6 separate regions of the Homo sapiens genome follow, and regions 1, 2, 3, 4 and 5 are each linked to region 6. The links come from fine-mapping of genetic effects on gene expression. A gene starts in region 6. Each other region holds a variant in brackets. All regions are shown on one strand. Distances are between the middles of the regions. Region 1 overlaps SLC26A4 (solute carrier family 26 member 4). Region 2 overlaps COG5 (component of oligomeric golgi complex 5). Region 3 overlaps NRCAM (neuronal cell adhesion molecule). Region 4 overlaps SLC26A3 (solute carrier family 26 member 3). Region 5 overlaps SLC26A4 (solute carrier family 26 member 4). Region 6 holds the start of CBLL1-AS1 (CBLL1 antisense RNA 1).

Region 1 (5,076 bases), 53 kb after region 6:
TTTGCCCCAAGGCAGCCTGAAACAGTGACTATGGAGTAACGGGGCAATAGCAGGGGTAAAAGGAAGCTTCAGAAACTTTACCTTCGCTGGCAAAAATAGCTCTCCTAAGATCCATACTAGTTAGGAGAGAGGCTGAGGGGGTGGGGACTACTCTCTCGTTTGATTAGATGACCAATGAATTCTCTGTTGAGACAGCTGGGGCAGAGCCAAGATGAAGATTAGAAGCTCTGAAACAAAGAAGAAAAGGAGACAGGGAACTACAAGCAAAGCAATCAGAGAGGAAACAACTGGGAAGATTTTGTTGAGCACAAGTACTGTCTAGTGCAAAAGGTCTGAGTTACGGGAGACAGACACAGCAAATATAAACAGAAAATTAGAAAGCACTTGCTCTACCTGGCAAATTGATCATTTATATTTAGATTATAGTTGGGTCAGCCTGAGGCAATATGATGTGTATGAGGTACTAAAAAGCGTGCTTTGTATGTCTGGCTGGCTTTTCTATGCTCTTCCTATCCCCATCCTAGATTCCCAGTACCCTGGTGCTCTTTCCCTTCTCCTGACTAAGCAGAGAAGCTGATATCCTACTTCCCTCCCTTCTCTTCGCTTTCCTTCATATCCCTTCCCTTCCTCTCCCTTGTCCTTCCTTCCATTTTCTTCTTTCTTTCCTTCCCTTATCCCTCCCTTCCTTCCTTGCATGCAATTACTCAACCAGTATTTACCGAGCCACTTGCATCTCACTGTGGATGGGGAGCTCTGTGAACTGGAGAAAGATATGGAGATTTGGGGACAAGGACCACAGTCAGCTGCCAAACTCATGCCAGGAGAGTGGCCACCTACTTGCCAATTATATGTCATAATGAGTCTCCAATTATGGGAGGCCAAGGCTCATTTTGGCCACTATATTAAAATTGGTGAGTGATCAATTATTTCTACTTACTTGATAAGGCTTGTTTGTGAGAAACTCTGTAGACTTTATATCTACAACCAGATTCAGTTACTAAAAAATTATTCTGTTAAGGGAGGGGGTAATCAGAGCTAAAGAGTGGTTTGTAATCAGAATTACTTTTCTGTGAGTCAGTGGAAGTCAGATGGGGGTGAGGGAAAGAAAAGGTTCCAATGTTTAATTCTTCTACAATCTGTAGATGTGCTAAAAACAGTTCGTGTCCACCAATACTCATTCTTCCATTCATTCATTCAGCAAATATATGCCAGGTGCTTCTTATGTGCCAGGCACAATATATGTATCATAGATGCTAAGATGCTATTCTTGCCTAAAGGAGTGAAACAATGAGCATTTACAAGTATGTGCTAAGGCTTTACATTTTCTTGCCTAATCCTCACAATATCCCTGTGAAATGGATGCAATTATCATTTCCATTTTGTAGATGCTGAAACTGAAGTTCCAACATAAGAGAAAACACGAGAAGCCACACAAGAGAAGCCCTGCCAGTTTATTTGTCCATCAGTCCCTGGATTTCAGTTCAGGCACTTAGACTTTTAACCCCAGAATTTAGTATACATTTCAATAATTAAACATGAAGCCATTTCTTTACTCGTTTCATTCTTTAATGCTGAAATCCTGGCATCCTTCATTCCTAAATATAATACATGCCAGTATGTGGCAGGGGGTATTAGCTTACCAGAGCACCATTATCCCCCAAACCCTGTGCCAAGGAGGTCACTTTACATGGGCATACTTACTGGGACAGCCAGCCCATGCCTCATTTGAGCCTGGAGGTAACATCAGGAGAATGGACATCAGCAGTTTGAGATTTGCCTGCACCCGCTGAAGACCATGTGCTCTGGAGAGCTTGTCAGTGCTCCGTCTCAAATGAAAGCAGCAGAAGTTCCTGCTGCTGACAGCTGCAGCCTGAAATGTGCACAGCTTTGGAAATTGGCTCTGACCTCTTCCCCTTGACCACAGATCTCTGGCTATGCCTCCGGATATGAGCTGTATTATTTTACCTGCTCCCTCAGAGCTGGAAATATTTGCAAAAAAAATAAAAAATTAAGAAAAATTCTGAAAATAAAATTTTTTGTTGAAAAGCAGCCAAAAAACTGGAAGAGGCCAATTCTTCCAAGTCTGTCACAAGATCCATTATAAATAGGAAAGGAGCATCACATGCATATTGGGGACAATTAAAGCCCTCCCTGGGCAAGTCACTGTTGGAGTCATTAGTTTTTTCAGTTATTCTCGTATATATATATGAGAATATATATATATATATATGTTTGTGTGTGTGTGTGTGTGTGTGTGTGTGTGTATATATATATTTGACACAGAGTCTAGCTCTTGTCGCCCAGGCTGGAATGTAGTGGCACGATATTGGCTCACTGCAACCTCCACCTCCCAGGTTCAAGTGATTCTCCTGCCTCAGCCTCCCAAGTAGCTGGGATTACAGGCATCTACCACCACACCTGGCTAATTTTTGCATTTTTAGTAGAGAAGGGGTTTCACCATGTTGGCCATGTTAGTCTCGAACTCCTGACCTCAATTGATCCGCCCACCTCAGCCTCCCAAAGTGCTGGGATTACAAGCATGAGCCACTGTGCCCGACTTATATTTATTTTTTAAGTGTCCCCGCCTTAGTAAAACCCATTTGAAGACTGT[G/A]AAGACTGTGCATGTGTGTGTGCATGTGTGTGTGTGTGTGTGTGTGTGTGTGTGTGTGTATTGCACTATGTAGTTTGGGTTTGTTGTTCTTTGGAGTCTCAATGCACTTCTTACTCCTAAATAATAGTTCTTTCTGTGTTGGGAAGATAAGGACCTCAAGGCATAAGAGACAGAAGCAAAATTCCTGAGTCTGTCTCTTGTGCCCATCTGCTTGGTGTGGTCTCTTCGACTGTGTCCTGCTGGAAAGAGTGGCCTTTGAGTATGGCTCCTGAGCTTTCTGAACACTGAAGGAGGGATTATCCAGAGATTAACTAGGATGCTGGCTTTTTGGCCACCTTGTAAAGGCAACAACTGCAAACCACATTTAAAAGATAAGATTAAACCCACATGCAGAACTTCAACAACATAAATCTTACTCAGGAAGAAATGCCAAAAATGTTACAACAAAAATATTCTTGGCTAGCAAACTGTTGTTCTGTGGGACCAAACGCCCCTGGAGGAAGTTCCTGATCCTTCTAAAGGAAATGTGAATAGAGCTTTTCACTTTCCTGAAAATAGAATAGCTCCTAAAGCCAGGAAGCGCTTTTACCAGGCCATCTGTCTCCCCAGGTAACAAATTAACAAAAATCAGCATCCTTCATTACTGATTCCTTGTCAGTTGTTATTGACCACAGCAGGTAAGTGTAGCTACATGACAGGTAAGCACTGACAAATAGATTTGAGAATCACTGTATCAGAAAACCATACATGTTGTTTTTTAAGAGATTTCAGGTGAGGGAGTGGAACAAGAGGAATAGGCCTGAGGTGAATCAGATTAGGAAGTACAAGTCTGAAAGGCAAATTGTCCTGCTAAGCTCGGTGCGAGCCTTCCTCTGTTGCCATTCCTCGACTTGTTCTCTGAGATGGATATCATAAGGCTGTTGTTCCTACCTGTGTCTTTCCTCCAGTGCTCTCCTGGACGGCCGTGCGGGAAAGAGCAGTGGTGGCCACAAAACAAGAGAAGAATCCTGAGAAGATGTTGCTGATCCCAAAGGCAATGAATTCCTAAGGAAGAGACTGGATGACAACGATCCTACAAATTGAATCTTTGCAAGACCTTCGCTGAGTATTTCAGGAAGTACATTAAGAATGAAAACTCCCATGCCTACTCTGCGTGGTGGTCCAATTTAATTTTTACCGTGATAGGTACTTGGGGTCCTTGTACGACATCAGGAGTTTGGACGCCATACCATCTGAGAGAGGTCTCATTGCTCTCGATAATTTTTAAAGTTGACAAGAAATAGCACCTGATCATTTGCTAAGCTTTTTCACTGCCTAGTGAATGGAATGTCTGCAGCTCTCACATAAAGTGTTTTTCTGTGGTTGAATATTCACTATGAAGCATATTATGACTAGCAGTGCTGTTATTCTGCTTGATTACTAACCATTTAACTACTGTTATTGCTATACTGTATTTTCAGAAACATATAGATACAGAACTTGCAAATTTGCAAGCAGTGTGAAATCAGCTTACCTGGCAATGTATCACATGCCTACAAAAATTGCCTGTATATATTAACTGCACAGTGAACCACCTCAATTTAAAGTGGTCACAACTATTATTAATGTTTGTTGCACTGTTTTGTCACATTATAACTGCCGTTAAAAATAATTGCCAAGAGGTACTGGGTTACATGAAGAATTCTCTTTCTGACCTAATATGTTCACTTTGAATGTTATTTATGACCTGACTGAATTAGCTCTTTTAAAATTAGTGTTATTTCAACTTATTTCTTAAAAAAGCAAAGTGATGCAGTGTGTCTATTCCAAAATAATTTCTAATTAGCAAACACAAGAGGAAAACCAACCCAATAAGGTCTGGTGAAAGAATCCAACCCCTTCTTTAGCTGACACCAAAATCTTTTCCATTTATGTTTTTTTCCTGTTTCCAGCCCTATAAAACCAGTTCAGCAAAAGGGCACCCATACCTGGTTCCCATCGATGGTGTAATCATACTTGGTGGCATATACTTTTCCTACTGACACTGCAATAGCATAAGCCACCACAGCGATGGAAAATGATGCAGCCAGCATCTCCGAGAACAAGCTCACAGGTGGAAGTTCAGGAGGCAAAAACCTAGTGAGTTTTTAAGTGAAAAATGCTGTGAAGATTTGACCACCATCCTTTTTCCCCATCTCATCAAATGCTATATCTGCTCAGTCACATATTAGACATGAAAGTACTTGATCCAAAAGAACAAAAAGCACACGAAATACATACATGATAGTAGCAGCTTTTATAATGTTTAATCAGAAGTTGGTGTTATCTTACTGGCTGATTTCTTTGTCCTCTATTTTTGAGCCTAGCCATGCTGACTCTTCTCTATCTCTCACATGAATAAATCTGCTGTTACTGATTCTTTAATATCATACAGCCCCATCCATGCCATTTCACATGTTAGTGTTTCTCCTTCCACAATTCCATCT
Region 2 (5,076 bases), 470 kb after region 6:
AAAATAATAAGTACATAATTGAATCATAATCTTAATTCTATACATTAATGTTTGAAAGTTAAGCACACATATTTCACTAGTATATATGTATGCTAATTGAAATCCAAACAAAATGAGACTTCAATATTTTTTTTTTACCATTATTGATATACTAATTTTAGACAGTGTGTCAAAATCTGATTGTCTCCACTATCTTTAGAATGTTAGCTAACTACGTTTTCAGTTTATCCTCTCTAACCATTCCCGGTTGAAATACCATAATAAACAAAATAATCTACTTTTATCTATATCCAAGTTGTTTCAGTTTGTTCTGTGATAATTTTTAGGGTAAGTTGGTGACATACTGAAGGATTTACATAAAATGATCCTTGGAGGTAACAGTCATGTTACGAGGCTTCCTTCTTTTAGTTCCCATGGATGGCCAGATTTTGTTTGCAAATATGGTACTATTTTCATTCAATTGATCTTGTAGTCTTGACAAAATCATCTTAGAAGCATCTTTTTAAGAACTTTATTGAAAACTAACCATACAGAGATATAGAAGCTCTTTGTAGGAAATTACTATGAATTTAGATTACTAATTTTTCTCTCAATCTTTGTTTAAATCTTTTTTATAATGTTCACTGCTTCAAAAACATGGTTATTGCTATAAATAAAATTCAGTGTTATATCTAGTAGAGTATAGTGTAATTACTGACAATGCTAAGATCTGAAGATAACACTGTAAGAAAGATCCAGCATGTATATAGAAAATACCTTGCATTGAGAGTAGGGAGGGACAGTGGTAATGGTAATATGTACTTCAGTTAACATAGTAATGGCAAAAGGCTTAGACGAAATCAAAATATCTGCAAACATTTCACTGAGTTGATACTGTTGATCAAATTGTCAGTGGCTGTAAATTACTTAGGCCTATCTAATGTACCTGCAGTGTTGAAGGCTAACAGAAAATCATTGTCATTTTTTGGTTTTTAATTGGATTATATCTTTTTTTATTAAAAATAGTTTTATTTTTCAACTTTCATTTTAGTGTATAAGGGAAGCTTAAGCATTAAATAAGATTATAAAAAACATCATATGCCTTATTTTTAAAAATATATTATTGACTAATGTCTTAAGTAACAACTTGCTGTTAATGTTTGTTTCTTGGCATTTAATAACACTCTTCTACCCCTCAATGTGCTAAAATTATACCTGTTTTGTTCTTTAATCTTTACAAATATTCCTATTTTTTTAGAATAATTTGACTGAAAACATTTAGAGGAAAATAGCCAAATTGTAAGTCTTTAGTGGAAGAAAGACTTGAAACAGATTTTTGAATTGGATAACTACTCTGCCTATAAATGGAAGTATTGACTTGAGATTTGGTATGAAAACTAAATCAATGAGTAGGAGATTCTTTTCAAAGATGAAAAATTTAAGCTTCCAGTCCACAAGATTAAGAAATGACAGAATCTGTTGTTTCCTGACTTTTTAATGATCGCCATTCTGACTGGCATGAGATGGTATCTCATTGTGGTTTTGATCTGCATTTCTCTAATGACCAGTGATGATTAGCTTTTTTTCATATGTTTGTTGGCCACATATATGTCTTCTTTTGAGAAGTGTCTGTTCAGACCCTTTGCCCACTTTTTGATGGGGTTGTTTGTTTTTCTCTTGTAAATTTGTTTAAGTTCTTTGTAGGTTCTGGATATTATCCCTTTGTCAGATGGATAGATTGCAAAACTTTTCTCCCATTCTGTAGGTTGCCTGTGCACTCCGATGATAGTTTCTTTGGCTATGCAGAAGCTCTTTAGTTTAATTAGATCCCATTTGTCAATTTTGGCTTTTGTTGCCATTGCTTTTGGTGTTTTAGTCATGAAGTCTTTGCCCATGCCTGTGTCCTGAATGGTATTGCCTAGGTTTTCTTCTAGGGTTTTTATGGTTTTAGGTCTTACATTTAAGTCTTTAATCCATCTTGAGTTAATTTTTGTATAAGGGGTAAGGAAGGGGTCTAGTTTCAGTTTTCTGCATATGGTTAGCCAGTTTTCCCAACACCATTTATTATATAGGGAATCCTTTCCCCATTGCTTGTTTTTGTCAGGTTTGTGAAAGATCAGATGGTTGTAG[A/G]TGTGTGACGTTATTTCTGCAGCCATAAAAAAAGATGAGTTCATGTCCTTTGCAGGGACATGGATGAAGCTGAAAACCATCATTCTCAGCAAACAAACACAGGAACAGAAAACCAAACACTGCATATTCTCACCCATAAGTGGGAGTTGACCAATGAGAACACGTGGACACAGAGAGGGGAACATCACACACCGGGGCCTGTTGGCGGGTGGGAGGTAGGGGAGGGACAGCATTAGGAGAAATACCTAATGTAGATGAGAGGTTGATGGGTGCAGCAAACCACCATGGCACGTGTATACCTATGTAACAAATCTGCACGTTCTGCACATGTATCTCAGAACTTAAAGTATAATAAAAAAGAAAAGAACAGAAACGAAGGAAGAAAGGAAGGAAGGGAAGGAAGGAAGGGAAATCAGATCATTAATAGAATGCTCAAGCAGTGAGATAAAGGAAAGCTAGAATTTTAAAGATAAGCATGTTTTCAGAAAGAGTGACTTGCAAATACAACCTGAAATGTACATCGAACAGCTTTTCATAATCTGAAATGTATTTCCCTAAAGATTGGTTATAGAAGTCTCTTGGCTACTGAAACGTTTTAGTATACTTAGTTATAGATTTTATTCATATCAGGAGAAAGGCTTATAAAAGGTTTTTTCAAGCTGATTTTTAATATTCTGGGGTATAGTAGATTATAACATTAAATTACATATAGAGTGCGTTATATACTTATAATAATACATCTGAAATTATTTTTATGATTACGTATTTTTTTCCCTAAGGCTTTTCTGTTACTAATCACCAAAGGTATGTGTTATACAAACCTAAATCTCTGTAAGGATAAATCCTTCAGTCCTTCTGAATCCAAAGCGATACCAGAGAATTTATTTTTAAGAGTGAGGTTGGGCCACAAAAATAACTACCATCATTAACCTTTATAGTGAATCAGGAATTGTGCCAAGCCATTTATATATATTATTTCATTTATTTCACAACAATCCTATGAAATGAAAGTATTACTGTCCACCACTACAAAATGTAGAAATTGAAGCTGAGAACAGTTAATAGCATGAGTAATATAGACTACTAAAATTAGAATGCCTGGGAGCAGGTGTTGGCACTAGCATTCAAATCCAGACCAGACTGTAAAACAAGCTTGTCCAACTCGCCTTATTTTTCACTGTTGTTGTTCTCTTGTTTTTTTTAGGCTTTTAGCAGCCTGAAGCCATGGTTTTTAGTTTCTATCTCTAGTGCTAAGCAGAAACGTATAATGAGTAAGGGGCTTTACTGGCCTAACCAGAAACAGAAACTAAGAACCCACGACTGTATTCTCTCCCATGTTCACCTCTGCACCAACCTTTAATACTTTATTTCTGATCTGTAGCTTGTATATAAACATAACATCTTTTTTATTTAAGAAAAGTTGCATTGTGTTATACATATTGTTTTGTGAATTGCTCATTCATTTTACAATATATCAAGATCTACATTTACTATGTTAATACGTGCATAATATATTTTATTTATGTGTAGAATAGTTTATTTTACTTCTGTGCTCTTAATGTATAGTTAGATGATTTCATAGTTTAATTTTGAAATAATAGGGATTTAGCATTGATGCTTCACATCTGAGTTCTAAGCAATAGGCTTTAGTTCCTGCAATATGTGTTTAACTTAGTATGGGTCATGTGAATATCAGCTTTCTAGATGCTCTTTTGTAAAACTGAGATCAAGGTTTTTTAGATTTTCATTTAAAAATTCTTGTTTGTCTTGACAGCAATTGTGAGGTTATAATTAATTTACTAAGAATTTTATGTTTCAAATACACATATACCTATAGGTGTAATATCATAATATTTTATGATTAAACTGAACAAATTATTTAATGGTGATATATTGGGGATTTGTTTGTATAGTCTGAAATGTGACCTTTAGAAGAAAAGGTCACTAGACCTTACAGTGGAAAGTTTGGGGTTTTTTGTTTGTTTTTGAGATGGTCTCACTCTGTTGGCCAGCCTGAAGTACAGTGGCATGATCATGGCTCATTGCAACCTCTGCCTCCCAGGCTCAAGGTATCCTCCCGCTTCAGCCTCTGGGCATGCCAGCATGCCTAGCTAATTTTCTTATTTTTTGTAGCGATGGAGGGTCTCGCCACATTACTCAGGCTGGTCTCGAACTCCTGGGCTCAAATGATCCATAGCCTTGGCCTTCTGAAGTACTGGGATTACAGGTGTGAGCCACTGTACCTAGCCACAATGGAAAGTTTGAATTAGTGTTTTTCTTATCCTCTGTGTGTTAAAAGAAAACTAAAATATTAGTACATAAGGGAACTGTTGTGGCACCTTTAAAATTTATAGGCTTGTAAACTTTTTTGATATCAACTTTGGAGGCAAATATATTAATAAGTATCCCTTTTAAAAACTGAAGGGTATTTTCCAACAGTAACCATTATTTGATGGTTCCAGGGAATGGCATCTAGAATCTTAGTGTAAATGGCAAATGTTATGAACTGTGAGAAAGGAGATTGGCATTTAATCAGGTTGCAGACCATTTGAAACAATAATAGGAATGACATTTAAGGGGAGGTCTCAACTTCAATGCAGATCAGTAGCTATGTATGAGGTCAATAGTTCTAGACACTAAGGTTTTATTTTAAGGCTTTGTAAATATACACTTTATTCTTTATATAATTTTATAAGTTGGAGACTTGACATTCCTATGATGGAAAAAAACATACATGTGTGATATTTAAATGGTATAGAGACATATGAGCTCAAATATGAGTTCAATTTTTTTTTTTTAAGTTCTAAAAGTATTGGCCAGGTATGGTGGCTCATGCCTATAATCCCAGCACTTTGAGAGGCTGAGGTGGGCAGATCACCTCAGGTCAGAAGTTCAAGACCAGCCTGACCAAAATGGTGAAACCTCATCTCTACTAAAAGTACAAAAATTAGTCAGGTGTGGTGGCGC
Region 3 (5,076 bases), 410 kb before region 6:
ATTATTATTTCTGATTTCAAACAAAGTTTTCAGTGTTCACCATTAAGGATGATGTTTACTTTAGGTTTCTTGTTGCTACCCTTAATCAGGTTAATGAAGATACATTCTATTCCTAATGTTAGGAATAAAAATACATTCTATTCCTAATGTTTTTATCATGAATGGGTGTTGAGTTTTTTCATATACCTCTTTCTAAATTTACTGAGATTATCATATTTTTATTTTCTTCTGCTAAAATAATGAATTATATGAATTGATGTTTTAATGCTAAAATAAGCCTGCATTCTTGGAATAAACCCAACCTGGATATGAAATATTATCTTTTTCATAGATTGCTAAATTTGGTTTGGTCATGGTTTGTTTGGGGTTTTTTCATCTATGTTCATGAATGAGATTAGCCTGTAGTTTGACTTTCTTAAAGCATTCTTATTGGTTTTGGATATCAATGTTATACTAGCCTCAAAAAATGATTAAAGGAGTGGTTCTCATGACATATTCAAACTTTAATATCTCAAAATGGAACCATTGATTTTCCCCTCCCAACATGCTCCACTCCATAGTAACAGTACTTCCAAGCTTCCTGTTGCTCAAACCAAAAATCCTGGCACCATCTTTTTCTCTGTTATTCCATGTCTAACCTATCAGAAAATCCTGTTGGCTCTACCTTCAAAATATGTTCATAATCTGAGCATTTTATACCACCTCCAGTGTTCCACTCTGGTCCAAGTCACAGTCATCTCACTCCTGGATTATTGTAATATTCTCCCCTGACTCTATAGAGCAGAGGTTGGCCAACTAAATATTTTAGACTTTACAGGCCGCGCGGTCTCTGCTGCAACTCTGCAATTCTGCTATTGTAGTGCTAAAGCAGCCATAGACATTATGTGATAAATGGGCGTGGCCTAATTTTACTGTAGTTTACCAACCCCAGCCCTCTAAGGTAGGCTATTCTCAACACTGATGGCAGAGTAGTGCTTTTAAAATATAAGTCAGAGCATGTCACTTATTCTTTGAAACCCTCCCAGGGCTTCCTGTCTCACTCAGAGTTAAAGGCAGCGTCCTTACAATGTTCCACAAGCCCTGATTTAGCCGTGCCACTCCCCTTACTTAACTCCTACTTTTCTCTCTCTCTCTCTCCCTCCCCCCAGCCACACCAAGCTCCTTAGTGTTCCTAGAACCTGCCAGGCTTCCCCTCACCCCGAGACATTTATACTGCTTGTTACTCCTGCAGGAACTGCTCTCCCTCCAACTATTCACCTTGCTAACTCAACTCTTTTAAAGTTGTTGACCAGATATTACTGCTTGATGAGGTCTTCCTGGACATCTTATTAAATGCCAGCTCTCCATCCCTTCTCCAACACCTTCTGCAGTCTTTACTCAGCTCTATACTTTGCATAGTGCTAATCCTCTTCTGACATAATATATATGTAATTTTTTTTATTATGTTGATTGTTAATTGTATTTTCTTCCACTAGAAATAAAGCCAGTGAGGTGAGGGTTTTAGTCTGTTTTGTTTGCTGCTATATTCCCAGTGCCGAGAACAATCTATCTTAGAGTAGTCACTCAATAAACATTTATTGGATGAAGGCATGGGTGGATAGATGGCTAGACCAAAGAAATGCCACAGATGACAAATTTCCAGCAGTGTATTCCTTGGGACACTAGTTCTACAGAGCAGAATAAGACTAGTCATTGGAATCCAGGTGACAAATTCTGCCTGTTATTGAACTCTTCAGCTGAATTAACTGTCACACTGAAACATGAACTATATTTCACAAGAAGGATTTAATAATTAAACCCCAGAGATGTTGTGTAGGCTATTTTCATAACAGGTTAGACACTCAATGCTATGTCCTCTGAAATGCTCACAAACACAGACCACCCCAAGATGATACCTCTCCAGTTGTTTATTAGCAGTGGTGAAAATATAGTTTATTCAGTTTGCAATAAGAAATTGTGTATTACTGAAACAGGTTGTTTTCAGTGGCATATGCCAGTGTCATATTATGCTAGCATTATTTCCCAGTCTTCAGATTTTCTTCTTGGAGAAAAATTGAAATCCCTAGTAAAAGTTATTGTCAAAAGAGCCAGGATACTTGTGCATCTTGAAATGTTTGTATCTTGGCTTGAAAAAAAAAGTCACTGTCTGAAACAGAGGGAGCAGTAAAGTCTTAGCAGAAATTGCTAGATTAAATACTGCAGCCAGTGATACCTTTTGTATGTTAAGGCTTTTTCATTTTTACATTAGTAAAAATGTATATGTTTCCTATTTTGCCTTGCATTTTTGTTCTTTGAAAGAAAACAAAATGTTAGATCCTGTCATTGCCTTTTTCTATTTTTTTCCCAAATGTTACCTATTAAAAAATAGGTCAATATGCATAACTAGGTATTTGACCGTATGGGTGAACATTCAAAAACATAATGATTACTCTTTGTCTTCCAGAAATTGTGCTTACGGGTTCAACAGAGAAATAAGCAAAAATTGTAATAATGGAATCTTGTAAAGTCGTATTAAAGTACACTCCTCAGATTCCCATCCAGTATAGTCAGGCTGCATAACACACAAGGAAGAAGGGAGCTGGGGGGTTAACATGAGTGTAGGAAGCATTTGCTATTACATGTTTGGAGTCATTCACATTCTTTAGAATATATTGGCATGCCATTCATAGTACAAATGTAGAGCTTTTAAGTTAAAGTGCGTCTCTTTCCAGATTAATAAATCTTTACTCATTAACTAAAATTTTTACCAAAAAAACAAAAAAATACTGTGTACTATCAGTATAAGGATTTTGCTTTTCTTCTTAGGCTGTTTTCATTTGTTTCTTCTGCATCCTTTTAATGGAATTTTGTAGGTCTCTTGAAAGGTAAGGTTGAAGTTTACAGTCTGGCCTGCATTGATAACAAAATTATTTGAAATGCAGGATTTTGCTTCTCCTTCTGGCTCAGAAAAAAAAAATCCACATTTCACACTTAACCAAAATCATGCTCCATTCACAACCAAGGAATCAGAGATATTATGCAGTTTAACATACTAACTTCTTTACTTGCCATAAGCTTTTGCCTTTTTGAATTCAAAATAGTGATGATTTTTCTACTTTTCTGAATT[C/A]TTTCTTATTTAATGCTTGTGATTATTTCTGGATTGCTTTCAACTCAGGAATCAGAATTTGTCATTGAAATTAACAAACACTATTGGGAGCCATCCACTCTACTGAAGACTTCATGATTCAACCATTTCTGCTCCTGATTTCCATTCCAACTCATCCTCGTCATTGGAGTCAACCTGAAAATTAGATTTGGCCAGAGAAGCCCAGGACTCCAAATGCTTTCTCATAATTTGCATGCATGGTCTTTAAAAACAGAAAATGTTACCTAAATGCCAATCTTGACAAAAATGTTTTCTCTTTCTTCCAGTGATGCAGAAGACCACAAGCCTTTGAAAAAAGGAAGTCGAACTCCTTCAGACAGGACTGTGAAAAAAGAAGATAGTGACGACAGCCTAGTTGACTATGGAGAAGGGGTTAATGGCCAGTTCAATGAGGATGGCTCCTTTATTGGACAATACAGTGGTAAGAAAGAGAAAGAGCCGGCTGAAGGAAACGAAAGCTCAGAGGCACCTTCTCCTGTCAACGCCATGAATTCCTTTGTTTAATTTTTAAGCTCTTTGCCAATATTCCATTTCTCTAGAATGTTTATCCTAAGCACTTGTTTGTCAGCCCTCTCATACTATGAACATATGGGTAGAGAGTATATTTTCTGCTGTATGTTAGTATTATGAGAATAGTTACAGCAAAAACATAACTCAGTCAAATGATATGTTAATATGAACTGGAATGCAAAGTGCATACTTTTTCATTCAAAATGGGTATTCTTGATTTCCTCAGAACTGATAAAAAATAATGCAACATCACCAACAGATCCTGTTATTTCCTCTGCAGGATACAGTTCAATATGATGCATGAAAAATGCTCCACATTTAAAGGACATACCCGTGTATGTTATGAAAACATGGTTTGATACTTTGTTTATACTACCCTCAGCTGAACCCCTATATATGAATTCCGTTTTCATTGTCAAGAATGTTACTGTAGTATTCTCTAGAACTTCAATGTCTTTGTGGACATTGTTGTGAAATTGGTGACTATGTATAGCTGTCGTTAGTCTTTTTGGGAGACTGTTAGGAACAGTTTGTACAGTATATACTTGCTAAATGAGTTCATTATGACAGTCACATTGCTGATGCTTACTGAGAACTATTACCTACTCTTGGCTCCTGTTACTCCGTAGGCTTCTTAATCTTCCAGGCATTACAGCAGCACAGTGTTCTACTTTTTACATCATTTCTATGTTCGGTTGTTTTTAGGCATAAACAATGTGTATTGCAGTGCATTTCGGCATTTGTGCCATACTGAAAGAATCAAAAACAAATCATCCAAATTAAATTTCAAACATTATTTCAGAGAACACAGGGCAAGACACATACAGTGCCTTCAGATATTAAGCATTCCACAACATCGTGCATTCTGTATCAGCTGGTCCAGTCCATTCTGGGTCCTAGATTACTGTCATTGTCTAAAAGTAACTTTTAAAAAGCAGAGTTCATGAAAACTGCAATGCTGGGAAAAGAAGGAAACATGAAAATAAAAATAAGACAGTTTATTAGAAATAGCATTTCCTCATAAGCATAAAAAGAAAATCTTTGTTGCCAACTGAAGCACATGATGATTTTGTGGTCCTTTATGGTTTCTATTACATTCAGTAAGAAAGATGTCAACATGCTAGAAAATTAATTTTAAAACTAAGTTATTCCAACACTAAAAGCATACAACAGCATGCCAACAGTAATATATTATTCTCCAAGACTTTACCTATGTAAGTGTTCAAAACTCTGCAGCATTAAACAACGTGTATGCAAATTGTTATGGATACATTTCAGAATCTAAGAAATCAGGCAAGTGCTTAAAAGGCCAACGGTCCAAGGGATTACATCTGCAGTTTAAAAAGTAAATATATATTCTATCGTATTCATAAACAATATCTATCAAATGGGTTACCTCCAAATATGAAAATCTATAACAA
Region 4 (5,072 bases), 25 kb before region 6:
ACAAGTGAAACTGTTCCCTAAGGAAGATATACTTTTCTTTTTAACAGATTTTGCAAGAATTTATCAGGATCAAGGTAGATGTGTATATCGTTGGAACTGATGGTAAGTGGCTTTATTTTTGTTTTATGTTCTGACAATCACTTCAGGCTCACTGCCAACTCTCAGTCTAGACAGCCTCTCCAAAGAATGAGTATTTTATATAATCATGATGAAAATCTAATATGCAGCCAGCCCAATAAAAATCCCTATGGAAACAGCATCTTTGTATTTTAGTTATGTTGATATGTAATTAAATACATTCTACAATTTGAATCCTGATTTCATAGGCAACAAAGGAGGAACATGTTAACTATTTTTCACTCTAAACTTCCTGAAAAGGTAGCCTTGTTTTCTGTCTCTCTTCCTCCCTTCCCTTGCACAATCCAGCCCATAACAATTTGGTTGAGCTTCACCTGCTGATGAGACCATCCTTGCCAAGGTTATCAGCGATGTCCAGATTGTTAGGATTAACGGCCTTCATCTCAGGTCCTTCTGCAGCAGCTTACCTGAGCATCTGGCACTCTCTCTAGCATTTGTCTTTGAAACTCTCTCCCTCCCTGACTCTGGCAGGACAGTTCTTATTCACCTCCTACCTCTCAAACATCTCCTCAGGGTCTGACATTGGTTCTTCTCCCACTTTCAGTCTCCCCCAAGCTTCAACCGTACACTCTATACCATAGTTCTAATTCCACAGACTCTTTCTAGTCAATTTCCTACATGTTTATGATTTCATGTGCATCTACTTGTTAATGAATCCCCAAACTATACCTCCAGCCCAGGCCTTTCTTCTAAGCTGCAGACCAATGGACTCGACTGTGGATGTCCCCAGGCACCTCAGATACACGCTTTTAGAACTACGTATATGATTCCCCCTCCCAAAAATACTTCTTTCCTATCACAATCACTGCATCACTGCTTACCTAGTTTTCCAGATAGAAACCCTGAAACCATCACCAATTTCTGCTCTCCTTCCCTCTAGTCAATGACCAGGTCCTATAAATATTTCCTCTTAAATCAGTCTCTTCCTCTCCATTTCCAGAACTTTAATCTAGACCCTTCTCACTTCTCAACTAGGCCTTCTAGAAGGACTTTCTAACTAATATCCTTGCCCATCCCTATAATGCTCTCCCATCCCATTTTCTGAAAGAAGCCTTCTTCAGGAATTTTTCCGACAATAACTGAAAACATCCTTGCTTCCCCAGGCAGAGCACCGGGTCTTCAGACTGTTTGTATCTACAGAGTACGCACGTATCACATAATTTTGCAGTTCAGTTTCTGTCCCTACTAGACTATATCTCTTCCAGGGCAGGTATTGTTCCTGCTTACCTTCTTCCTGTCTCTTCCCTAGATCCTAGGACATGATGGGCATTCAGTAAAGACTTATTGAATACCTACTATTTATCAGGCACAGTTCTGGGTGCTGGGAATATAGCAGTGAATCTGACAAGCCTCTGTCCTCATGAAGCTTATAGTCTCATAGAAAAGCCACATAATAAACAAACAAAAGCATATTTCAGGTAGTGATAAGTGCTAAGAGAAAAGCAGAGTTAAGAAACAGAGGCTGGGAGCGGTGGCTCATGCCTGTAATCTTAGCACTCCAGAAAGCTGAGGCAGGCAGATCACTTAAGCCCCAGCGTTTGAGACTAGCCTGGGCAACATGGTGAAACCTCGTCTCTAAAAAAAAAAAAAAATGTTAGCTGGGTGTGGTGGCATGTGCCTGTAGTCCCAGCTACTCAGGAGGTTGAGATGGAAGGATCGCTTGAGCCTGGGAGGTCAAGGCTGCGGTAAGCTGTGATCGTGCCACTGCACACTAGCCTGGGTGACAGAGCAAGACCCTGTCTCAAATCAAAAAAAAAAAAAAAAAAAAAAAAAAAAAAAAAAAAAAAAAAAAAAAAAAAAAAAAAAAAAAAAAAAAAAAAACCCCTTTTTTTTTTTAAAAAAAAAAAAAAAAAAAAAAAAAAAAGAAAGAAAAGAAAGAGAGAAAGAAAGAAAGAGAAAGAAGAAAGAAGAAAGACGAAATAAGAAAGAAAGAAAGAAAAAAGAGAGAAAGAAAAAGAAAGAAAAGAGAAAGAAAGAAAGAAAGAAAGAAAGAAAGAAAGAAAGAAAGAAAGAAAGAGAAAAAAGGAAGGAAGGAAGGGAGGGAGGGAGGCAGAAAGAAAAACTGGTGATCAGGGATGTCCAGCAATATGACATTTTGAGTACAGACTAGAACGAAGTGAGGCAGTCAACCTTGACAGTACTTAGGGGGAGCTTTTTAGGGAGAGGAGACAAGTGGTACACATATCCTTCGAAAAGTATAAAATTGGCATCCTTAATCTCTCCCTTTCTACTGGATCCTGTCCCTAAAATATACAGACATATTCTAGTTTCAAGACTTTTAAAAAAAACTTTTAAGTTCAGGGGTACACATGCAGGTTTGTTACATAGGTAAACTCGTGTCATGGGGGTTTATTGTATAGATTATTTTGTCACCCAGATATTAAGCCTAG[C/T]ACCCATTAGTTACTTTTCCTGATCCTTTCCTTCCTCCCACCCTTCACCCTCCGATAGGCCCCAGTGTGGGTTGTTCCCCTCCATGTGTCCATACGTTCTCATCATTTAGCTCCCACTTATAAGTGAGAATATGCAGTATTTGGTTTTCTGTTCCTGCATTACTTTGCTAAGGATAATGGCCTCCAACTCCATGTACCTGCAAAGGATATTGTTTTTTTTTAATTTTTTTATATGTTTTTATATAGTATTCCACGGTGTATATGTACCACATTTTCTTTATCCAGTCTATCACTGATGGGCATTTGAGTCCATGTCTTTGCTATTGTGAATAGTGCAGCAATCAATGTATGCATGCATGCGTCTTTATAAAAGAATGATTTATATTCCTTTGGGTATATATCCAGTAATGGAATTGCTGGGTCAAATGGTATTTTTGTCTTCAGCCCTGTGAGGAATCGCCACACTGTGCTTATACACTGTTGGTGGGAGTGAAAATTAGTTCAACCATTGTCAAGGCTTCCTTATAATTAAAAACATCCCCTTGATCCCAGAAACCTTTAATTTACTAACAATTTTACCCTTTCCTCATCATCCCAGATATTTTGGAAAGTATCTGTTCCTGCTGTCTCTGCTGCCTGGCATTCTTTTCAGTCTTTATCAAAGATTATCACCTTCCTTCCCATTGCATGCCACCCACTCCATCCCAGATCCTGGTGGCCACAATGCCCTCCACGCTCCCTCTCCCTCTGTCACTGAAAGCTTTCTGTAAACAGAAGAATCCATCTTCATAACTGTGTACCTTCTCTTCCTCCACTTTTCTGCAAATCCTAGGCACGTTTAGACGGTATCTGCTCAAGTTTTCCCAGATACCCACCAAGAGGAAAATTTCTCAGAATTTTCATAGTACATGATCTATATCTCTCTCATATATTCAACAAAAAATATGAAGACATACTATGTGCTGGGAATTTTTTTAAAACTAAGAAAACAATAAAGGAAAAAAACTAGATTGCTCCTTTCCCTCATTATTATACCACACGTTTTCTGTCAGTACTACAGGAATATATAAATGTTCTATCTTCCTTGAGGGCAAGATTCAGGTCTAATTTATCTTTTGATCTTTCTTATTACTCAGCCAGAGTTTTGCACATGGCAGACATAAGGTAATAGTTGGTTGAGTCATCTATGTAAATGAATGCTGCTTAGTGCCTACAAAAATGGGATTTCTCAAAGATGATTAGAGAGGTAAGTGGTAAGGAAGATGTTTTCCCATAAAACCCAGCAGCTTTGGGAAAATGGGCTACAATAAAGAACCACAGCATATCACTGGTCCATAAACATATGTTCCATTTTGGCAGAATCCCAAACTTTAATAAGAAGCCACACTTGATACTCTAATCATTAAGCAGGGAGATCAATTCACTAGGCTCCTGCCTAAATGAATTTTCTTCTAGGAACTACTGTTTTTCATTTGCTCCTTTGCCTTCCTCCTTTTTACATTAGGGCATTAAATTTTTTTTATTAGAAAGGTATTTGTTAGTTCCAAAAGACATTGTACTAAAGATAGACTGGTATTATACCACTGCAACCCACACACACTTAACCAAATGTCAATGAAACGCACATTTGCAAATGGAAGGTGAAATTACTAGCCTCAAGGGGAAACCGGTAGCCAAACAATTGTTTCTTCCTAAAAGTTACTGTTTTTTTCTCTTCAGATGACTTCATTGAGAAGCTTAACCGGTATGAATTTTTTGATGGTGAAGTGAAAAGCTCAATATTTTTCTTAACAATCCATGATGCTGTTTTGCATATTTTGATGAAGAAAGATTACAGTACTTCAAAGTTTAATCCCAGTCAGGTATCAGCTCTTTGGTGACTTTCACAATTGCATAAGCAGCCATCTGCACTCCTTAAATTTCTCTTTTTCAACATTAAAAAAAATCAGCCCCTAATCCATATTTCCATTCTCTTTTTCTCAGGAAAAAGATGGAAAAATTGATTTTACCATAAATACAAATGGAGGATTACGTAATCGGGTATATGAGGTAAGATTCTTCAACAGGTTTATCTTCACCTAGACATCACAGCAAAAAAAAACCTTCAAAGTAGTGAGGCCACTTCCTGCATGTGGCAGAAAGTCCAGCACTTGCTTGAGCCTCTGTGCCTCATCCCTAGAAAACTGAAGCAATGCTAACCAATCTCACAGGGAGTTTTCAGGAAAAGAAACTCAGACCCGTACAAAAACAGGATGAAAAAATAGTGATAATAGATCTCCATTAATGCAATATTGAGCATATCTTCTTTTGTTTTTCAAACCACTTACAACAATGCTCTTATTCTGGCCCTGTAATAATCCACGTAGCAGGGAAGGTATTGCTCTTTCCATTTACAGGTGAATTAGCAATGAAAATGATAAGCTAATACACACCTCCCAATAGCCAGATGCTTGAGAAGTCCCTAGCACAGTGCCCAGTCAAGCAATGAAACAAGTTTCTATCCTTCCTTACTAGAGTGAGTTGCCAATTCAGCATTTAACTGGA
Region 5 (5,076 bases), 25 kb after region 6:
CTGTTCCCTCTGCCTGAAAACTTTTTCCCCAGATCTGTACATGCCAATTCCTTCCTTAAATGTTACCTCTTTAGAGAGTGTGCTATTCTTATCATTCTCTATTATTGCCCTCCATTTGTCGCCTTCAGTCTCTACCTCCTTATAATGGCTATGGCTATGTAAGTAGTCATTATATATTTATTGGTATGTTTACTTCTTTACTGATCATCTCCCACGTTAGACTATAAGTTCCGTGAGAATAGCAACTGTCTTTTTTTTTTTTAACCATTCCCTGGATACCCAGCCCCTAGTTCTGTGTCTATTACAAAGTAGGTGCACATTAAACATTTGATGAATGAATGAATGAGGAACTAATGGAAAAATCTAATACTTTGGGGTAGGAATGCAGATGGGCAGAGGAAGATGAAACTAAAAAGAGAAACTAGCCTCAACTATTTAAGCAGGCAAATTTGGCCTGCATATTGTTTCTCCCCTGAGTGTAAGTTTTTATCCCATGCCTCCTTACACCATGTGGCTGGCTCTGCCTCTGGTTAGGCCAGCCACTTATTATGCAGAAGAAGGGCTGGGGAGAAAGAAGAGCAGAGCATCACTCCCACACTTTCAAGCCCTTTAATTCTTTGGGAGAAGATGGCAGTAAGCACAGAATGCTCATTTGCCACAGCTTGTATTTTGTTGTAAACATTTAATAACGGGTTTAAACAGAAATATTGAGCAATCACTCCTTGCTTTGTTTTAGGGACCAAAAGTTTCTTTATTACAAGCAAGTAAAATCAGAAGAAACAATGACTCTCACATAGAAACAGTAACATGTTTATAAGGAAATGTTAACTCCACAATCTCAAATCAATATCTATTTCTACCTATATGTTTTTAAATAGCACATATTTCTTTTTCTACCATAAAAGTAGTGCTTCATGTAATTATAAATAATAGAATACTAAAATTATCTTTAAAGGATAGGCTATGAAAATAAAAATCACATCCATGGAACAAGCCTTTTATTTCTAAATCACAAAAGCTAGTATGTCTGCTTTCATCTCTTACTCCCTTTGGAAACAAAAAACAAAAGCCTCATTCATCTCCACTTTAATTTCACCTTCTGAATTTATTTCTAGATACCTAGATCACCTGATTGGATTAGCGAGGTAATGTAACCCAGCCATTTGTCTTTATCTCTTACCACACTGGAGGATAAAACCTAGGCTCCTTTATGTAGTATATAAGGCTTCTCGTTAGCTGGCCCCAGGTCATCTTCCAGCCTCATTTCTTACCACCTTCTTCCCTTACTCACTTAACTGGGAACTTACTGGAGACAGGTCATGGGCTCATGTGTGTGTTCTAAAGGTCTGGCCCTCTCTTACTCAACCAAATACTTCCAGGTCAGGGAATAGAAAGATGTCCAGACCTCCTTCTTTTGTATATGGCATAGGCTTAAAGGAATGGGTTAAATGATCCTGCTGTGCTGGTTTACTACAAATCGATGAGCTAGGAAGTGAATGCAACTGGAGAGAGTAGGCTTCACTACTTTGGTCAACATGCGGAAATAAGAACCGTCCTCAAGTGTTAGGCAGTGCCACTAGTTTGCAAATGCCTTGACAAGAATCATACCTGATCTTTCTTGTGAAGAGTCTCTCCCAGCTTGCAGTACTGGCTGGCCAAGGACTTGTAAAATTCTTTAACATCTAAAAGGTGACCTTTACATGCTCCCCAGTATCACCTAGAGCTCCTCCATGGCTGAGGTGGCTGTGGGCAAAAATGAAATTGCAGAGAAAGAGTATGTCCTCATTGGAGGCTCACCAGAAGTCATTGCAAATGAATTCTACAACAGAATATTCAGTGTTCAACTTACCCTGATTGTAGGAAGTCTAATATCAGAGCTATTCCTCTAATTCAGAATGTCTTTGTTCAGCCATAAGTCTGGGAATGGTGTCAGAAGAAGAGGTATATCTGCACTTGGAGTGCATTTTTAAAAGGGTCCCCAGAAGGAGTCTTGTGCTGATGGCATAGTTAAACTTCTTGATTGTGATGGTGTTTACACAAAGCTATACATGGGATAAAATTGCATAGAGTGCCCCAACACACACACACACACACACACACACACACACACGTCCATGTATAACTGGTGAAATGTGAATAAGGTCTATGGTTTATACCAATGCCAATTT[C/T]GTGTTGTTTTTTTAAATTGTACTGTAGCTAGGCAAGATGTTAACATTGTGGGAGCCTGGGTGAGGGGTGCATGGGAATCTTGCCATATATTTCTTTGCAAATTCCTGTGAATTTATAATTATTTCAAAATAAAAAGTTTTAAAGGAGCTGGAAGGGGACTCAGAGTATTGGAGCACTTGATCTAAAACAATGCTTTGGGAATCACCTTGAAACTAGAAGACCTTATGCAAAAACAGCACCTCAATGTTCACGCCCAAAAATGTTCCTGAAGAAAAGGATGAAGTGGGCTGACTTGGTTGGCATATTCAAAATGGATATAGACATTAAAGGGCCTTTAATTCCCTGAAGCTCTGCTAACATACAAGTGAATTCCCAGGCCATTTTCTGGAGACCAATAGGTAAGGCAGACAGGCAAGCAGGTGAGCTGTCACAGTAAGTCTTTGGAATAGGCCTGCAAGCTCAGGAAACTCTGAATGTCTTATGTACTTAATGACTGCCATTCTCAAATTATGTTAACCTTACTCAGCATCACTGACTTTAGCTTAATGCATTCATCTGAGAGTATTTATTGCACCTCTACCGTGTGTCTGACACTCTTTACTCTTCTGAATACTTGGTATATGTCCAGGAACAAAATAAAGAACCCTGCCTTGGTGAAGCTTATGTTCTAGTATAAGCGAGGCGGCAGGAAGAGAAACAGTAATAAGTGAATTACACAGCATACTAGAAGCTGATATTAATGAAAAGAGCTGGGTAAGGGGGACCAAGAATTCAGGAGATGGTGTGGCATGTGGGGGAGGGAGTGTTGCTCACTTCTCTGAGTTCTCGAAGGATATGATTATATTGAAATCAATCCTCTATTTGGATTTTATTTTCCCATTATGAAATTCTCTACGCCACCATTCCTTTCTTCTTCTTAGTCTTTCTCTTCCTTCCACCTTTTATTTTACCTTCGTCTTTTCTTTCTTCCGTTAATTTTCCCTTTCTTATTTCTCTTCCTTCCCTAATTGTCATTCTTTTTCTCTGTGGTTCTCTTACCTTTTTCTCCCTTACTTTCCCCTCTGAACTTCCTTTCCTTCTCCCCTCATTGTTTCTACTTTTTCTCTCTTCCACTCTTTTTCTAGGTATTTGTCATTATGTGACTTTCTTACAGAACTGAACTTCATGTGATTTAACTAAAGTTTGTGTGGTTTTTGTTACACTGTTAAATTGTTTGCATGATAAATGCTACTCTAACTGAAACCAAACTTTCTTCAGATACCTAACCTGATGCAAATGGAAAATAACCCTAATTTCATTGATTCTCACCTCACAGATCTAAGCCCCAGATAGAGGAACCCCACCCCACCAAATATTTCTGGAATGTGCAAGGATGCCTCACAAGAATGTTCATAGTAGCACTATTCATGAGAGCCCAAAACTGGAAACGACACAAATATCCACAAACTGTAGGATGAATACATAAGTGGTGGTAAATTCTACAATGGAATGAATACTATACAGCAGGGAGAATGAATGAATGATTGCTATATTGAATAAGATGGATGAATCTCTTGATTATAATGTTGAGTGAAAGAGGACAGACACAAAAGAAAGGGGGAAAAAAGAAATAATCTTTGATTCCATTTCTATGCAATTCAAAAAAAACAGATTTTAAAAGTCAGGACAGTAATTGCCCTTTGGGGCAACCAACTAAGAGGGAGCATGAAGAGTTTATGTGGTGCCGGTGGCATTCTGCTGCTTGATCTGGGCACAGGCCACCCTTGTGTGCTTGTTTTGTGAAAATTCTTCAAGCAGTACACTGTGATTTGTATCCTTTTTTACATATGTTGTGCCAGAATGAAAAGTTTGCTTAAAATAATAATAACCATTGCACAAAATAAACTGGAAATATTTGGATAAGAATCACAAGGTTTAACTGTGATATTTGTGAGTAATGTTGTTTATTGCACTGATAAATCTACACAAAGGAATTATAAACAGAAGTGGTGCTATAAAGAATGCCTCATAATGATGACTGATAAGAGCAATGACAAACTTAGAATGAAGTATTTTTATTATATTTTATTTATTTATTTATAGAAACAGGGTCTTGCTGTGTTGCCCAGGCTGAGACTCTAACTCCTGGGCTCAAGGGACCCTTCCACCTCAGGCTTCCAAGTAGCTGAGACTACAAGGGCATGCACCACTGCTCCTGGCACATTCTTTATTATATTTAATAGTTTTGTTCAGAAAGGACACATCCGAGTAGTTTAAAAGACAACTTTACATTTATTTTTAAATGTGTGCAAATATTTTCAAATGTACATGATTTGATTTTTTAATTTGTTAAAACTCATATACAATACTGGAATCTTATCCTATAGGTTAAAAATATAACAAAAGGCAGCTTTAATTTCAAGTGAAATTTTCATTGATAATACAAAACTAAAATTATGCTTACTATTCACAAAATACATAGAAGAGACAGTATTCCCGCAGTTTGCTGACTTATGTCATCACAAATGAACCCAGAATTTACAAACTCTAGCCTTGTTGTAAAACGTAACTTTGGCATTTCCTTCAAAAAAGTGAGCAGTGCATATTTCCTTTATTGAACAAAGGTATTCATTCATTTTCTGCAAGACTATTACATTCACTCTTTTTTTTTTTTTTTTTTTTTTTTTGAGACGGAGTCTTGCTCTGTCGCCCAGGCTGGAGTGCAGTGGCACGACCTCGGCTCACTGCAAGCTCCGCCTCCCGGGTTCACGCCATTCTCCTGCCTTAGCCTCCCAAATAGCTGGGACTACAGGCGCCCGCCAGCCACCACGCTAGGCTAATTTCTTTTTTTCTATTTTTAGTAGAGACGGGGTTTTACCATGTTAGCCAGGATGGTCTCGATCTCCTGACCTCGTGATCCACCCGCCT
Region 6 (5,076 bases):
TTTCGGTATGATCATAAAATGGGTCATTTTTGCATAATGTTCAAGGGTTTCATCTGTTTCCCCAAGGACCTCTTAATCCTTTAATATTACAATTATTCTTTTGAGATGCCTATCCTGTCATGATTCTTCAATTATCTAGCTAAGTGGCATTTCCTCATTTGTCAAAGCCTTTGTGATTTAAACAATTATCAAATTCATGTTTACGAATTTCATGAAAACCAGAATCTTCTACAAGGTTTATAATTTTATTTCACAATCAGTGCACAGTATTTGATACTGTCTTCTGATACTAAACATCAAAGAGATTGATTCATTTAAAAAAAATAAAATAGGTAAGAAGCTAGTGTTAAGCAGAAGGGACATCTGAGAGGGAACTAATTTTTTAAGTGGTCAGCTCATTCGTGAGTATTTTCATGTTAAGATGAGTTTTACTTCCTTAGGCAATCTCTAAACTTCAAGAATTAAGATAATAAACACTCTTTACACTCACCCCTATTATGATTTCCTAACATAATAGCCTCTAAACTATGGCAGGAACTTGACTCATAATTCCAGTAGTGGGCTCAAATAAGAATTACTTTCCTAAAGTTGAATGTTTGCTATTCTAACATCAAAATCCCAGTTTCAACTCTATAAATTCCCAAACACTGGAATTCTTTACAGCCTCGTTCTAGGCCGGCTTCTCCTCTGAACACACCCTTCTTAAGTGGTCTCATCTGTCCTCATGCTTTAAAATACCAGCTATAAATAAAGGTACTAACTTCCAAATACGTATTTTCAGTGCAGATCTTTCCTCTCATCTCCACTTGGCATCTCTCCTGTGTCTCAGTAGTTATCTCACACTAGCAGTCCAAGACCAAACACTTGTTCCCAAATTCCCGTCTCACCTCTACAAAAAAAGATTGTTTTCTGCCCCAAGTTTTCCTCAGCTCAATAATGGACCCTACCTAGTTGCTCAAACCAAAAGCCTAGGCATTTCTCCTTTCTCTCACATTCCTTCAAACACCACCAGAGTATTTACTGAAGCTGCCCATTCTCCTTCATTTTCACCAAACCAACCTTCCCTTCCCGTCTACTGCAATCAGCTATTTTCCATCATTCTTACCTCCCTCTCTTACACCATTCTTCATAGAACAGCCTATTGTATTTTTTAAGAGACTGTGTTCCTCCTCCACTTCTGTTCAATGGCTTCATATTCACTTAAATTAAAATTCAAACGTTTACCACGGCTTTCAATGACCTGAATGATGTGCCTGCTGCCCTCCTTTCCAATCTCACTTCAGGACTCCTACCCTCTGGCTATTAGGAGGCTGCAGCTGACTTCACTGTATCTTCCTACCTCAGTGCCTTCGCACTTGCTGGAAATGCTCTTCCTCTTGCTTTTTTCCCAGGGCTGGGTTCTTCTCATCCATCAGATCTTAGCTTCCACAAAGACCATTCCTAACAACCCTCTCTGAAATTTCGTCCTATGAATCTCTCCACAGCACTCGTTTATTTTCTTCAAAATAATCCGCAAACATTAAAAAAATAATAAATTTAAAAAAAAAGAACGTATTGTCTGTGTTCCTCCATAAAACAGAAGTTCTATCACGGACCTGGTCCGTCTCGTTTACCATTCCATCTTCCATCTCCCGACCTATAGATATCTGCATGTATCTTGCATAAATAAACATACACACCTACATAAATAAACATACACACCTAATTATATAACCAAGTAGATATCTGATGAGTGAGGACAACTCAATACTCAAGAAAAAGCCTTTTTTTCTCTATTTGTGATACGGTCGCTATAAATGTATGGGGCACATAACTCCAAGAGCACTCATTCAATATCCAAGAACCACAAAGAAGCAAAAGCCAGAAAATACATAACAAAGGGTGGAGCCACTCTTACTTGGAGAAAAGTATGAGAATGCCTTGATTTTAAACTCCTCTTTGTAAATACCCTCAAATGATGAGTAAGGACCTCAGCCGAAGCGCGGGGCATGCTTTTGGTTTAGGTAGAAAAACTGCTCCGAGTTTGATTCCAAAAACTCTATCAGACTCCCTTCTTTCACCCCTCTAGTCCATAAAGGATCGGAGAGACGACAGGGGGTGACCACTGCAGCACCCGCCCAAAGCTGACTGAGACAGCAGGAAGTCTCCAACCCATTCTCGCCCGTCCACTCCCAGCGTAAAGAGGATTCCGCGACTCGGAGACCGCAATCTACCCGCCAGTCTCCATAACGTAGGCCAGAGCAGCTGGGCTAAATAAAACAGAGCCGGGGCTCTCCCTTCCCGAAGGCCTACATCGCCCACTGGTCCGGGCTCGGAGCTCAGCAGAACCAGAGTAGGAGCGGTTGTTGCCGGCACGGAGGAGGTAGGTACCACACCAGACGGTAGGCCAGGAAACCGCAGGCCCCTGCCGGGCACAGGAAGGCATCTGTGAGATTTCTTCTCACTGCCACACCCTAGTGTTGTGGGGCGAGCATAATCCCTTTTGCCTGCTGTGCGACCAGCCCCAGGCCGGCCAAGGGGGCTTGGAACCGGGACCCCCACTGCCTCCGCCTCCTTACCAGTGTGATCCATGATTCGGCTCGCAGAGCACAGTGGGAGCGGAAGTCAACCGCGCCGGAGTCGCAGCGAGCGCGTGCGCACTGCCTTCCGGAGGCCGGGAGGCGGAAGTCCAAGCAGGTTGTCCCAATTTTGGCCTGCAAAGACTTCCTTCTCTCGCCTCTACTATCCAACTCCTGTGAGGGACTCAGGCATAGTTCGGGCGGAGGCAGAAAGAGCGAGCGCGCGAAGAACTTCGGTATTGAGGTTGCTAAGGCTTCTCCTCATGTGCTTCAAGAGAAAGTAGCCTTTAACTGTGGAAAGGACACCAGGGGGACCGGGGAAGGGGAGAGCAGTGGTAAAAATGAGCCAGAAGCAGATAAGGCGACTGCCCGCCCCGCGGAGAGCTGCCTTCTGGGACTTGTAGTGCGCGGGGCCCCCGGAGCCGGCTGGCTGCGCAGGCTCGGCCGTTGCGCTGGCCCCACCCCGGCGGGCGGAGTAACGGTTTGGAATCCCCCGGGGTCAGCGAGCGCTTGTTTCCTCCGCCTGGTGTAGCAAAAGTGTAAACACGCGCGCTCCGGAAGGCGCCCTCCAGTGGGAGGTTGCTCAGGGGATGGCGGAGCTGTGAAACTCGGAGCTAGAAGGAAAGTCTCAACGCTTGTCTAAATTTTGCTTTGTCGTGACGAGCTACCTAGACCCACGCAGAGCTAACTTGGTATATGCCCCGGTTCCCATCTCTTAAGTCTCTTTACAGTTGAAACACGTTTATAATGCTTGACTGCCACTCACTTTCTAGGGAGAGCGCTTGTGACGCTACGAACCTCTCGAACACCTGACGACTGGGCGCCAGGGCCGGATGGAGGGTGGAGAGCCAGTGCGGCGCAGCTGCCTCCTCTTAACGGGGACACCTTGCAGGAATGTGCGGAGTGGAGCTAACGGGAGCGGATAGAAACCGAGGGAGGGGAAGAGAGCGCGAAGGCTTGGCCGGAAGGAGAGGTTAAAAAGGAAAGGCCTAAAATGAGGAAGAGAGTTACCACAACAAGCAGTACCTAGTTCCAGTTCTTGGTCCCAGGAGTTTGTGGTTGTTGCTGCTTTCATCTTCCTCAGCCAACACAAAAGGAAAGTGCCAAGGGGCGATTCCTAGGACCTTCAGTGCAGTCTCCACCTTGCGGACTTGGCTCATTTGTGTCCACTCCTTTCTCCAGCCTTTTACACTTGATGCTCTTGGATGAATAGAAAGGAGCACAATTAATGGAAAACACAAGCTTGGGAGTCAAGGGATTTGGGTTCTATTCTTGTCCTCCCTTGGTGACGACATCATTACCTTGGGTTATTCAAGCTTTCAGTGCCAGAGTTCCTATATCAATAAAAGATTATTACATTGACCTCTTAGAGAAATGTTTTCATGGTACTGAATTGCAAATAAAGTATGTGTAGCGATGTGTTATATCTTTGTAGTTGTACGGTATTATTTGTGAATCATGCTGTGATGATCAGTGCGATTTAAGTGCACCATGTTATTTGGTGATTATTTTCCTGAGATCTTGTAAAAGATTTTTCTGCTCTATATATGCAGCTTTATAAACAAGTTTTTAGGTACATTCACAACTAAGGACATTTGTGAATCAAAATTACCCCTGCTTTTTTTAAATGTAAAGTTCTGTATTGCTAGGTGGTTTTCAAGATGCTTTCAGTTTCTGGGATTATTGTTTTGGGCATTGGGGCTTGCCTAACCTTTTTCCCATACCTCCCTATTTTTCTAAATACAGTGTTGATATAGTCAGGCATTTTTCACCAATTTGGGTTTTTTTTTTTTTTTTAAGTTTTCACTTAGAAAGTACTTCTTTTTCATATTAAAAAAATTTTTTTTAGAGATGGGGCAGCCCAAACTGGAACACAATGGCAGAATCATAGCTCACTGCATCCTTGGACTCCCGGGCTCAAGGGGTCCTTATGCCTCAGCCTCCGGAGTAGTTGGGACTACAGATGCTCATCACCACCACTGGCTTTGATTTTTTTGTTCTATCATACTTAGCCTATCAGCTAACGGTTAACCTTCAGATTCATGGAAATCCAGGTTCAGAATAGTATTATTAATGTCTGCTGATGCTAATATTTAAATAATTAGAATTAAAAAGAGCTTTCAAATTGTATTTTATATAATTTAACCTGTAAGTTAGAAGTTTTGTTGGCATTTTATGGTGCATCAAGAAAATTTACTGAGAGAAGATGTACTTACTTTAGATCTGATAAAATGTTAAACATTTGTTTGATTTGATTTGACATCTCTTACTTTCAGGCATTGCTTTAGCATCTGTGGTCTGTATTTACCCCCTTAATTGTGGTTGCCTTGAATTACCAATGCAGTAGCAGTGTGATAAATTAATTTCTTTACCTATGTTTTATTACTGCCCTCTAGTATCTCTTTTCAGCGACCAGCGTGCTGTAACCAGTCACAATTTCTTTATCAAGAGTTGCCATTAATATTTATTTATAGAGCATAAGGTTTATATTGCTTATATATAAGCTATATATAGTTTA

Evidence for each region. PIP is the estimated chance that this variant, and not a neighbour inherited with it, causes the effect.
Region 1: its variant is fine-mapped to the expression of CBLL1-AS1 in tibial artery (GTEx, PIP 0.92).
Region 2: its variant is fine-mapped to the expression of CBLL1-AS1 in whole blood (INTERVAL, PIP 0.98).
Region 3: its variant is fine-mapped to the expression of CBLL1-AS1 in whole blood (INTERVAL, PIP above 0.99).
Region 4: its variant is fine-mapped to the expression of CBLL1-AS1 in whole blood (TOPMed, PIP 0.98).
Region 5: its variant is fine-mapped to the expression of CBLL1-AS1 in aorta (GTEx, PIP above 0.99).

The regions. Positions count from the first base shown.
Region 1 is chr7:107,688,703-107,693,778 of GRCh38, reverse strand. It overlaps SLC26A4 (solute carrier family 26 member 4), which reads right to left. Exons shown (of 21, transcript NM_000441.2): 9 at 4,579-4,726; 10 at 3,542-3,655. Among named protein-coding and RNA genes, the nearest start is that of SLC26A4-AS1, 29 kb to the right of the region's middle. The variant G/A (reference allele first, on the strand shown) is at 2,612.
Region 2 is chr7:107,275,671-107,280,746 of GRCh38, reverse strand. The region is part of intron 14 of COG5 (component of oligomeric golgi complex 5); the gene reads left to right. Among named protein-coding and RNA genes, the nearest start is that of HBP1, 110 kb to the right of the region's middle. The variant A/G (reference allele first, on the strand shown) is at 2,110.
Region 3 is chr7:108,148,483-108,153,558 of GRCh38, reverse strand. It overlaps NRCAM (neuronal cell adhesion molecule), which reads left to right. Exons shown (of 33, transcript NM_001037132.4): 33 at 3,412-5,076. The coding sequence ends at 3,649. Among named protein-coding and RNA genes, the nearest start is that of LAMB4, 21 kb to the right of the region's middle. The variant C/A (reference allele first, on the strand shown) is at 3,107.
Region 4 is chr7:107,767,084-107,772,155 of GRCh38, reverse strand. It overlaps SLC26A3 (solute carrier family 26 member 3), which reads left to right. Exons shown (of 21, transcript NM_000111.3): 18 at 48-102; 19 at 4,248-4,390; 20 at 4,512-4,577. Among named protein-coding and RNA genes, the nearest start is that of CBLL1-AS1, 25 kb to the right of the region's middle. The variant C/T (reference allele first, on the strand shown) is at 2,529.
Region 5 is chr7:107,717,125-107,722,200 of GRCh38, reverse strand. It overlaps SLC26A4 (solute carrier family 26 member 4), which reads right to left. Exons shown (of 21, transcript NM_000441.2): 21 at 4,392-5,076. Among named protein-coding and RNA genes, the nearest start is that of CBLL1, 24 kb to the left of the region's middle. The variant C/T (reference allele first, on the strand shown) is at 2,169.
Region 6 is chr7:107,741,659-107,746,734 of GRCh38, reverse strand. It overlaps CBLL1-AS1 (CBLL1 antisense RNA 1), which reads left to right and starts at 2,154. Exons shown (of 2, transcript NR_144537.1): 1 at 2,154-2,362; 2 at 3,332-3,982. It overlaps CBLL1 (Cbl proto-oncogene like 1), which reads right to left and starts at 2,593. Exons shown (of 6, transcript NM_024814.4): 1 at 2,559-2,593. The coding sequence starts at 2,571. RefSeq lists enhancers at 2,119-2,298, 2,649-2,868, 2,966-3,484, 3,485-4,004 and a silencer at 2,909-3,108.